Linked DNA regions of Homo sapiens: region 2 is linked to region 1. The links come from fine-mapping of genetic effects on gene expression. A gene starts in region 1. The other region holds a variant in brackets. All regions are shown on one strand. Distances are from middle to middle.

Region 1 (5,352 bases):
GCGGCAGGAGATCAATGTCCCCACTCATGCAGTGAGGCAGAGAGTGAATTTCACCTTCCCCTACTTTTTTAGTCTATTCAAGCCCTAATGGATTGCATGAAGCCCACCAACACTGAGAAGGGCATGTGCTTTACTCAGTCCATCAACTCAAACACTAATCTCCTCCAGAAACACTTTCACAGACATACCCCGCCATCATGTTTAACCAGCTACCTGGGCATCCCATGGCCTAGTCAAGTCGACACATAAAATTAACCATCACATAGTGTTCCCCACATACAATGGCCCCACAAACAGGAACTAAACAATTAGCAAAGCTCTATGGCTCAATTCTAGAATTGAGGGTGTTAATCTGTTTTCTGTTAAGGAACTCTAGGCTCTATGTAAACTGAAACTGTATCAAAATGCTGACACTAAAATTAGAAATGGGAAGAAGTAGCTTTTAAACCACAAAATTAACTGGGGGTAACTGACAAGCAAGATTAGACTTGCACTTAAAGGAACAAACGTGATGGTCCAGTTGCTACGTAGCGACAGCAAACTTATCAACTCTCCTACTCAGCAATCTAGCAACAGGGAACACAGCAAACTGCTAAACCAAACACACACACACACACACACACACACACACACACACATATGTATGTATTCTGTCCAAATGCTGGAAGCAATTAAAAGGAGTAATTTGAACAAGCAATGCTGAGCAGCACAGTAATTAATAGGATACTGGCCTCCCAAGATTTATAGGGCCCACTCTAGTCTTCCTCTTGTCACATACCTTACCACAGGTGAGACACCCTCAGGGCACTATTCACCCAGACCCCATTACCCCTCCATTCTAGACCACCTTCCAGGTACCTGAGATCATGAAATTTCCTGCTCAAATGTTGGTCCCATAACTCGCTTCCAGGGCTTGATCAGGCATCTTCCCTAGGTCCATCCAATCAAGGGTCATTTGCATGTTTGAGATGCATATTCCCAGGACCAAGGTGGCTTTGGGGAGAGAGCTTGGTTATCAACAACTATAGTGTCCACATATTGAACTATACTGTCCACATATTGAACTATACTCTCCACATATTTCTGTGCAAGACTCCTTGTGGTGCAAGACTGAGTCAGGGGTTAGGAAGACAAGGGGGCAGGGGCCTGGGGGAGGATCTTCAACTGCACTCTTGCTCTCGTATTCACAAAAACCAGGGGCCGGCCTGCCACCAGGTACCCATCCAAAGAAAAGCTAGAGACAAATATATAGGAAAGGTTAAATAGTAGGTTTTTGTTGTGAGGGGCCTTATGAAAATTAAAAAGGTATAAAAATATTCGGAAAATAAGCACTGTGCAAATTCAGTGAATCTAAAATCCCTTATTTAATAGTAAAACTGCAGTGCAGAATTATGCTATAAATCATAGTGTTTTCCTATTAAGAAATACTTCTGATTTAAGTTTGATGTTTCCCCATTGCTTGGGGTGAGATGGGGGAATGTTGGAGTAGGGGAATAGTCAGAGATGGATGGCAAAGATTGGTAATAAGTTGTTACTGACCTGCAGAGTTTACAGCTTGAAAGAAAAACTGTAGGAGTTAAGATCCTCTTTCCTAGGAATCCATGCCATGAGAAGTTTAGGGATTGAAGTAGTGCCTGCTGACATGTGAAAACCGGCCTGTAAACTTTGCAAGCGATCCAGTAAATTATGCTTGTTCTAGTGGGAACCACCCCCCCCAACTCCGCATTCCAATCCCCAGGCCAGAATCATCAAAGTTGGCAAAAAATATTCATGGAGAGTAAGCAGGCTGTAGCAAGATAGGCTCTTCAGCAGGCAATCTTTGCTTCCTCCCACGTTATGACTGTCTTTCTTGCCAGTTCCCTAGGCAGATCAGACCCTTCACTTCCCAGTTGGCCTCCCTTCCCCAAGTGAATGTGACTTCTTACAGAACACAATTACCTATGTTGTCTGCCAAACTGGATTTTGTTTTGTTTTGTTTTGTGTTAAATATCAGCCCATTTTCACGACTCTGCAATTATGACAATATGTGGTAGGAAACCATTACTGTCAGCTCCAGTCTGAAACTGGCCACTTACCAATACACTTTGCCAGGAACAAGTCTTTCTGGATGGATACTACGTGGTTAACAACATGTAAAGATAAACGGCTAAACAAAATATCAACATTTTCTTACAAGGCTCAGCTTAAGGACAGAACAGTGATGTGCAATGGTTTTCATGTTGTATCCACAAACACAATTCTGTATAAGACACACTCCTCTTTTTTTAATGGTTGCTTAAACAAGTGGTTATCCGTTATGCTGTTGACATAGGAAACGGTGAAATGCTAGTAACCGAATCAAAGCGGCAGTGCAACAGGCCGCTCGGTGGTGCGCATTGTGTGGTTTGGTTCCTTGGATGGACACACTTGCTTTACGCTTCATCCCAATTTTTGTCCCAACCTCTTAGTGTATCTTCCTGGGAATAGTAAAAACAAAGCAAAACATTCTGGTCTTACTTCAAGCTGCCTTTGCACTGTTATTCCCTTGTTCCGCTCATTTCACGGGATTGGGTTCTCCTAACTTCATTGTTTGGTGAGTTGCTTTGCTTTGCTCGTTGCCCCGATCTTCTGTGTATTCTGCGCAGACCCCGCAAGTGCTCCTGCACTCCCTCCCAGCCCTCTGCTGGGGCTTAACGCTTCCCAGCCGAGGTCAGACTGCCGTGCGCTTCGAGTACCGGACCCCGAGGAAGCGAGAAACGCCGCTCCCGCCGGTCGCGGGCAGCTTCAGTACACCGGCAACACGCGCGCCTCTGCCCAGTGCCGCGCCCAGCGGGTGCTCAGACTCCTTCTCTCCCTCCCCGCCGGCGCGCCCCAGGGACTCGGAACGCCCCCGCGAGTGTGACGCGTCCTGCCTCCCCTGCAGCTCGCGGACACTCGCACTTGCAAGGCCTGGCCAGCACTCTTGGGCCCGCCCCCCGACAGTGCGGGGGCGGAGACGACGGCTCCCCTAGGCTCTGGCTCCCGGCCTTGGCCGGCGCGGGTAGGCGCGGGAGCCTCGAGCGCCGCTCGGATGCAGCAGCCGAGCCGCCACTCGGCGCGCGGCGGGAGACCCAGGGCAAGCCGCCGTCGGCGCGCTGGGTGCGGGAAGGGGGCTCTGGATTTCGGTCCCTCCCCTTTTTCCTCTGAGTCTCGGAACGCTCCGGCTCTCAGACCCTCTTCCTCCCAGGTAAAGGCCGGGAGAGGAGGGCGCATCTCTTTTCCAGGCACCCCACCATGGGCAATGCCTCCAATGACTCCCAGTCTGAGGACTGCGAGACGCGACAGTGGCTTCCCCCAGGCGAAAGCCCAGCCATCAGCTCCGTCATGTTCTCGGCCGGGGTGCTGGGGAACCTCATAGCACTGGCGCTGCTGGCGCGCCGCTGGCGGGGGGACGTGGGGTGCAGCGCCGGCCGCAGGAGCTCCCTCTCCTTGTTCCACGTGCTGGTGACCGAGCTGGTGTTCACCGACCTGCTCGGGACCTGCCTCATCAGCCCAGTGGTACTGGCTTCGTACGCGCGGAACCAGACCCTGGTGGCACTGGCGCCCGAGAGCCGCGCGTGCACCTACTTCGCTTTCGCCATGACCTTCTTCAGCCTGGCCACGATGCTCATGCTCTTCGCCATGGCCCTGGAGCGCTACCTCTCGATCGGGCACCCCTACTTCTACCAGCGCCGCGTCTCGCGCTCCGGGGGCCTGGCCGTGCTGCCTGTCATCTATGCAGTCTCCCTGCTCTTCTGCTCGCTGCCGCTGCTGGACTATGGGCAGTACGTCCAGTACTGCCCCGGGACCTGGTGCTTCATCCGGCACGGGCGGACCGCTTACCTGCAGCTGTACGCCACCCTGCTGCTGCTTCTCATTGTCTCGGTGCTCGCCTGCAACTTCAGTGTCATTCTCAACCTCATCCGCATGCACCGCCGAAGCCGGAGAAGCCGCTGCGGACCTTCCCTGGGCAGTGGCCGGGGCGGCCCCGGGGCCCGCAGGAGAGGGGAAAGGGTGTCCATGGCGGAGGAGACGGACCACCTCATTCTCCTGGCTATCATGACCATCACCTTCGCCGTCTGCTCCTTGCCTTTCACGGTAAGTCACTCCCTACGTTTCCACAGCCCGGCTCTGCTCAGCCTTCTCATGCTCTCCCCTGACGCCTCCACCCTTTCCACCGCCCTACAAACTTTTTGCAACTTGTAAAAATATGTCCTAATTTGTAAAGATCTGTAGCCTTCCCCACTAGTTTCCCCTCCTCTTTAGCCCACTTCCTTATCCTGGCTTATGGGCGTTGCTAGGCTAGAGTTTCTTATACAATAATACAGACCGTCCGAAAGGGAGTCCTGGGCCTCAGCTAAGCTAGCCAATCTCCTCATCCTAGCCCTGGGCAGTGTCCCTTTCTCGCTGTTGCCTATCTTGGCTTAGTAATTGAGAAAGAGGCAGCCCCTTCCACCTTAGGATGGCTGTCACTGTTCCAGCCTGACGACCTGGAGCTGCAGTTTGCTGCCCTGTACCTCTCATCCACTGGTGCTGGTTCTCCATGCTTGCCTTCTGTTCCTGCCAGGGCAAAATGTAGTACCCAACCCATAGCATTCCAGCTGCCATTGAAAATGGTCCCAGATGAGAAGGGTCCCTGAAGCAGAAGTTTAGAGCATTTGTTATTTGTCCTAAAAGTCCAACAAACATCTAGTTTATAGGTTTCCCAATTTATATATTTGAATGTAACTCTTTGTGGCCATGAAAGTTTATAAAACCATAATGATAACTAGAGGAAATACTTGGAGGAACATCTTGCTAAGCATTTGTAATATCTTGCAAAACACGCTCTTAATGTCACTGTCAGAAATACACACAGGTGTCCTTCAGCTTACAGTTATGCACTTGATGAGCACAAAGCCACAGGCAGGAATGGCTGGTCCCTCTCAGGAAGGGAAGAGTGGGGCTACCTGGGGAACTGAAGGACAAGAGACCAAGTCCTGGCATCGTGCTGCCTTGATTTGGGGCAACTTTAGCAGTTATTTGATGCTAACTAACTGCTAAATGATATGAGGCTGTGAGTTCAAGTCTCCTCAAGTGTAACGTTTTAGCTGAGCCTGGAATATGTCCGAGAATGTGCTGGCCTCTTACGGGGGCTAGGAATTGGGAGTTGTGGCAACTCCACTTCCTAATCTTCAGAAGAGCAAGACTGATGCTGCAGCATCAAAGCAGTTAATAGTGACTTCCACCTGCCACAATCTTGGAGAAAAGAGATGGGCAGTGCCTACTATTAACAGGTCTGACCTGTAAAAGCTGGAGGAGAAGTAACTTTATCCTATCTCCTGCCTCCATTACTGCTTCTTACATCTTCATGTG
Region 2 (5,379 bases), 100 kb after region 1:
ATCCCAGCTGCTGGTGAGGCTGAGGCAGGAGAATCATTTGAACCTGGGAGGCAGAGGTTCCACTGAGCCAAGATCATGCCATTGCACTCCAGCCTGGGTGACAGAGCTAGACTCCGTCCCCCTCCAATCCCCCCCTACCACCGAAAAAAAAAAAGAAAAATGGGTCTAACCCCCAGAAGAATGCATACATGTTCATGTACACTCCACTTTACCTATGTGTATTACAGACCCCAAGTAAAAAAATCCCTCCTTAGATATAGGATATTTGTGGAGTGGAGCTCTGCATAAGCAAGCACAGGTCCTCTAACAGAGCCACCTCTACCTGCAGTTTCAGCAGTCAGCCTCTAGCTTACTAGGTGCATGTGTAGATAGAATGTAGTCCTGGGTTCCAATTACCCTTCCATCAACCTTCCTAAATGTTCTGGGACTTCTCTTTGTATTCAGGATCAAAGAATTTTAGACTATTAAACCAAAGGTGAAACAAGATTCCTGATGTTACAAATATTTACAACTATTTTTTTTGGTAACTATCAGAGAGCACTAATGACAACTAAAACAATTCAGAAACACACGGAATAGAACAAACTACACAATGTGCTAAATTTCATATGATAAAATCTGACTTAGGTAATCAGGGATAGTTTTTTCTTCAAATAGTTTATTAAATCAATTTGTACCAGAAACACACGCACACACAGGCACACATATATACACATATACATATATGGGCATACATAGTGAAGCTCTGAAATTACAGGAACATACATAGTATTTATGTTAATATATTTTTGAATATTATTTATCAAGACTATGCCTTTCTTGAAAAGATATCAAGATCTGAAAATCCAAAAATATAAAACAAGAATCTGTGGATTTTCATTTAAAAAGTAATTCTTGGGCCAGGCGCAGTGGCTCATGCCTGTAATGCACTTTGGGAGGCTGAGGCAGGTGGATCATGAGGTCAAGAGATAGTAACCATCCTAGCCAAAATGGTGAAACCCCGTCTCTACCAAAAATACAAAAAAAAAAAAAAAAATTAGCTGGGCATGGTGGCGTGTGCCTGTAGTCCCAGCTCCTCGGGAGGCTGAGGCAGGAGAATCGCTTGAACCTGGGAGGTCAAGGTTGCAGTGAGCCAAGATAGCACCATTGCACTCCAGCCTGGGCACAGAGCCAGACTCTGTCTCAAAAAAAAAAAAGTAATTCTTAATTTTAAAAAAGTACAAAATTATTTATTCAACTAGAAGTTCTGTCCATTCAACTACTTGTCACACATCTGTATAAAAGGGCATTTACTCAGAGGATTATTTTATTATTATCAGAAAACATAAAAGGTGAGTTGAAAGATATCAAAAAAATCTCTATTTTAAAAGGACACTTTGGAGCCATAAAAATCATTATTTTTCTCTAGCAGACCAAAAGCTAAAGATCATTTTCAGGGGGATGGACCAACAGCAATGGATAGGGCCTGAATTCTCAGATTTCCCATAGCATCAGTGGAGAGAGAAAACTTCCACTTTATGAAGCTAGATTAGAGCAAGTGTTAACAAAATAAAGTCTTCTACACATTAAAAAAAATCTCATACCGGCTCATTAAGGGAGCAAGGGAATTACTAGAAATAACTCTGAAATTCTTTCCCACAAATACTGAACTTTCATTCTTTTTAAAATGCGTGTCTGTCAACAATTACAAGAAGGAACAGTAAGACAAGGAAAACAAAGAAGTTGCTGATTATAGGTTCTGTTATGAACAAATATATATTTTTAAATTTTATATTTTCAATGGTAGACATGATTTCTTACATGTTTATAATAATTGCACTTGGGTTGATTCCTAGAAACTTGGGAAAGTATAATCACATAGTTTATAGGTTTTACATTTACTTTTAGAAAGGCAAATCATCTCATGCATTCCTATAAGAAAAAATACCTTTGTGAATTCTTGGGTTTATACTCCTAAAATATAAAAATGCTTTCTCAGGAAAAATGAATTATGATCAAAATTTTAAAAATCAGAGATGCAGAACTCAATCAGAAATTCCCTTCATAGGCTAGGGGAAGTGACCAAGGATAAATCAAAACACTAAGACTAAAAATGTTTCAGGTACTGGTTGTGTCTTCAGTGTTTTCCCTGAAGCCCAAATCAGATTTAAGTAAGATGTAAGAGGTATGAGAGGTCTGCCTTGAATCCTAGAGCTTGGAAAGTCTTTTGGAAAAGACATGGAGAAAAGAAACACCTTTGTGAAAACCTAGACAACTATGGCCGAGTGACTGGGATACATTTGTAACAACGTAGAAAAGGTGAAAAACAACAAATTCTATATACAGGTGATTGATGATTTAAAATATCAAAATAAACTTTAAAAGTCCTTTATACCATTGAAAACATACACTTTACAAAAGCACTATACCATGTAATTCAGATTCTGAGACCTGTACACACTTAAAAGCAGAAAGTGTTTGCAGTACTACTTATAACAGCATCACCTAAAACACCAGTCTTCAACCAACAGGTGATAAATGGCAGCACAAATAAATTATCTAAAATATATTCTCCCTTAAATTTGTTTTATAAAAATCCTGCCTAGGGCTGAAATTCATCAACTTCTGAAAAATAAGAATTTGGAAAATCTCACTTTCAAATGTCCAAGAAGAAATCTCATAACCATGGCTCAGTGGCTTCCTTTGGTGACAAAAACAGGGTAAATCGATGTTATAGTTCATCAATATCACAAAATGGATTGTAGGTTGCATTTGCCAGGCCTTTCACAGTGTCCTGG[C/G]GTTTATTTTCCTCTCTTATGGGTTTTTCTTTATTTTATCATTTATGATCATTTATTATAATAATGGTTTGGTGGTTTCTCCCACATATTTTCAGAGCATCTTAGGCAAGCTCCTTTACCTCTCTGAGCCTTAGTTTCATCATTAGTAATATAAAAATGGAAACATCTACCACTCAGATCTTCCTTCTTGGGACTTGAGTGTAATTTATCTTCTAAAACATGGAGTCTCTCTTCCCCACACACCTGGGAATTTACTACAGTTTCATGGCAATTATTTTTTCATGATTCATCTTCAGGTTTACAGCTTATCATGGATTTTTTTTCACCATGTCTCCTTAAAAGATACAAATGGATCTACCATTTCCTCTGTCTTGTTTTCCTGCATTTCCTGCTTTTCATGCCTAGAAACAGAAAGATTACACTCACATGATGAACATCCATACTAACAACATCCCATAAAATGTTACCAATCTGAAAATTTCTGATCTTGACTGTCACTCCATCTTCACTTTAAAAAAAAATTGTTTTTAAAGGAAAATTGCCATAAGATTTTAATTCACCTCCATCAACATCCATCCCTCTACCCCTACCCCTCGCCTCCCATCAACTGCTCCTACCTAACTTGTGGTCTATGGGAAACACCCTTGACTTGCAGTCTGCATGCCTGGTTCAAGCTCTGATTCTACTCCTTAAGAGCTTCAGAAAAATCTCCTTAACTGGCTGGGCGTGGTGGCTCACACCTGTAATCCCAGCACTATGGGAGGCCGAGGCGGGTGGATCACGAGGTCAGGAGTTCGAGACCAGCCTGGCCAACATGGTGAAACCTCGTCTCTACTAAAAATACAAAAACTAGCCAGGCGTGGTGGTGGGCACCTGTAATCTCAGCTACTCAGGAGGCTGAGGCAGGAGAATTGCTAGAAACTGGGAGGGGGAGGTTGCAGTGAGCCAAGATTGCACTACTGCACTCCAGCCTGGGAGACAGAGTGAGACTCTGTCTCAAAAAAAAAAAGAAAGAAAGAAAGACAGAAAAATCCCTTTAACCAGGGGTTCCCAAGCAGGTTCACTATCAGCATCATCTGGGCAGCTTTTTAACTGTTAAAGCAGAATCTTGGAGGGGGTAGCGGAGGGGAGGAGAGTGAAGCACACAAAAAAATACAAGGGTCTCTTTTATGAAAAGCTCTGCTAGATGATGCAAATGAAGACTCTAGTTTGTGACCTATGTGCTGTAACTTATTTATTTATTTATGTATTTATTTATTATTTATTCATTTATTTTGAGATGGAATCCTGCTCTGTCACACAGGCTAGAGTGCAGTGGCGCGATCTCGGCTCACTACAACCTCTGCCTCCCAAGTTCAAGTGATTCTCCTGTCTCAGCCTCCTGAGTGGCTGGGATTACAGGCCCATGCCATCATGCCTAGCTAAATTTTGTATTTTTAGTAGACCTCAAGTAATCCTCTGCCTTGACCCTCCAAAGTGCTGGGATTACAGGTGTGAGCCACCGCGCCCAGCCCCATGTGCCACAACCTCTTGGTTTTGTTCCTAGCTTGTAAAATACTGAGTCTATTTTATAATGATATTGTGAAAACTAAACAATGTATAGGAAAGGGCTTTATAAATGGGAAACTGAATATAATACAAGGTAGTATGAATCAATACTTTTGTAAACTTTAGAGTAAAATAAACTTATTATCAATCATTTCTGCAGCAACCATCACACACAGGATGTGATATAAACATATCAATACTGACTATCTTCTGAAATGCTCATAGTATAAACTCTCTGAGTATACCAGAACACAATTTTAAAAACACATAAAGGAGTTTTAAAACTGAAAGACAAAATGTTTTCACAAGACTTTAGAATAACAAACATCTAAATAATTTCACTCTTTCTGACTTCTTGAATTACATTAAGACTTTATTGTGGGAATCTGCTTCTCAAAGTCCCAGTCTTCTAGGAAACCAGAGAAACACTGGAAGACTTTGAAGCCAAACTAAAGAAAAGAAATGGATGTGCAAATATTGGTATTGGTCTGTCTCCTTCCCATACCTAAGTTGTTTCCTGGAACCATAGTAATTGAGATGCTAAGGGAGGTTTACTAACTCAGTTCCCATTTTGTGCAATTTATATTGCAGGGAATAAACTGTACTCTAATAGTCTGGAAAAATTATTTCAGGAAATGACTTTGGCCCTAGAGAGTATCTGATTCATTGTAATTTCCAGGATAAAACATTCACCTACAATTTTTAATCCCCCAGAGGGCTTAATCTACTTATGTTAATGCAAGCAAAGGGGCTGGTAGAAAGGGACTCTTACTCTAAAATGATTATAATTATCATTTTAGGGAGACCATGTGTTTAAGGTAATCTATCATAGATGTTTAATTCTCCTCTTTCATCAAAATAGAAACACTTGAAGTTTACTTTTTTACTCTTGGGAATGGGTGGGGAATAACTGAATAGGCTTGTAACCCTAAATCATAACCTACAATTCAGAGTTCAAGCTCACTAGTTCAACAACACTTTGCTGTATCTGGCTCCTGTTCCTCTCTGGCCTCCTGCATGTCTTTTCTTCAAACACTCTTCACTCCAAATGGAA

Direction of the effects. Alleles are on the strand shown, and positions count from the first base shown. SD is a standard deviation of normalised expression in the study named.
With allele C in place of G in region 2, the expression in fibroblasts of the gene that starts at base 3,016 in region 1 is higher (small effect, 0.25 SD a copy in GTEx).

What was found. PIP is the estimated chance that this variant, and not a neighbour inherited with it, causes the effect. A credible set is the group of variants that fine-mapping cannot tell apart.
Region 2: its variant is the best candidate, but not a certain one, in a credible set for the expression of PTGER2 in fibroblasts (GTEx, PIP 0.57).

The regions. Positions count from the first base shown.
Region 1 is chr14:52,311,297-52,316,648 of GRCh38, forward strand. PTGER2 (prostaglandin E receptor 2) reads left to right here and starts at 3,016. Exons shown (of 2, transcript NM_000956.4): 1 at 3,016-4,095. The coding sequence starts at 3,253. RefSeq lists enhancers at 2,246-2,806, 2,807-3,366, 3,601-3,750, 3,771-3,910 and a silencer at 2,971-3,080.
Region 2 is chr14:52,414,656-52,420,034 of GRCh38, forward strand. No RefSeq gene overlaps it. Among named protein-coding and RNA genes, the nearest start is that of PTGER2, 100 kb to the left of the region's middle. The variant C/G (reference allele first, on the strand shown) is at 2,778.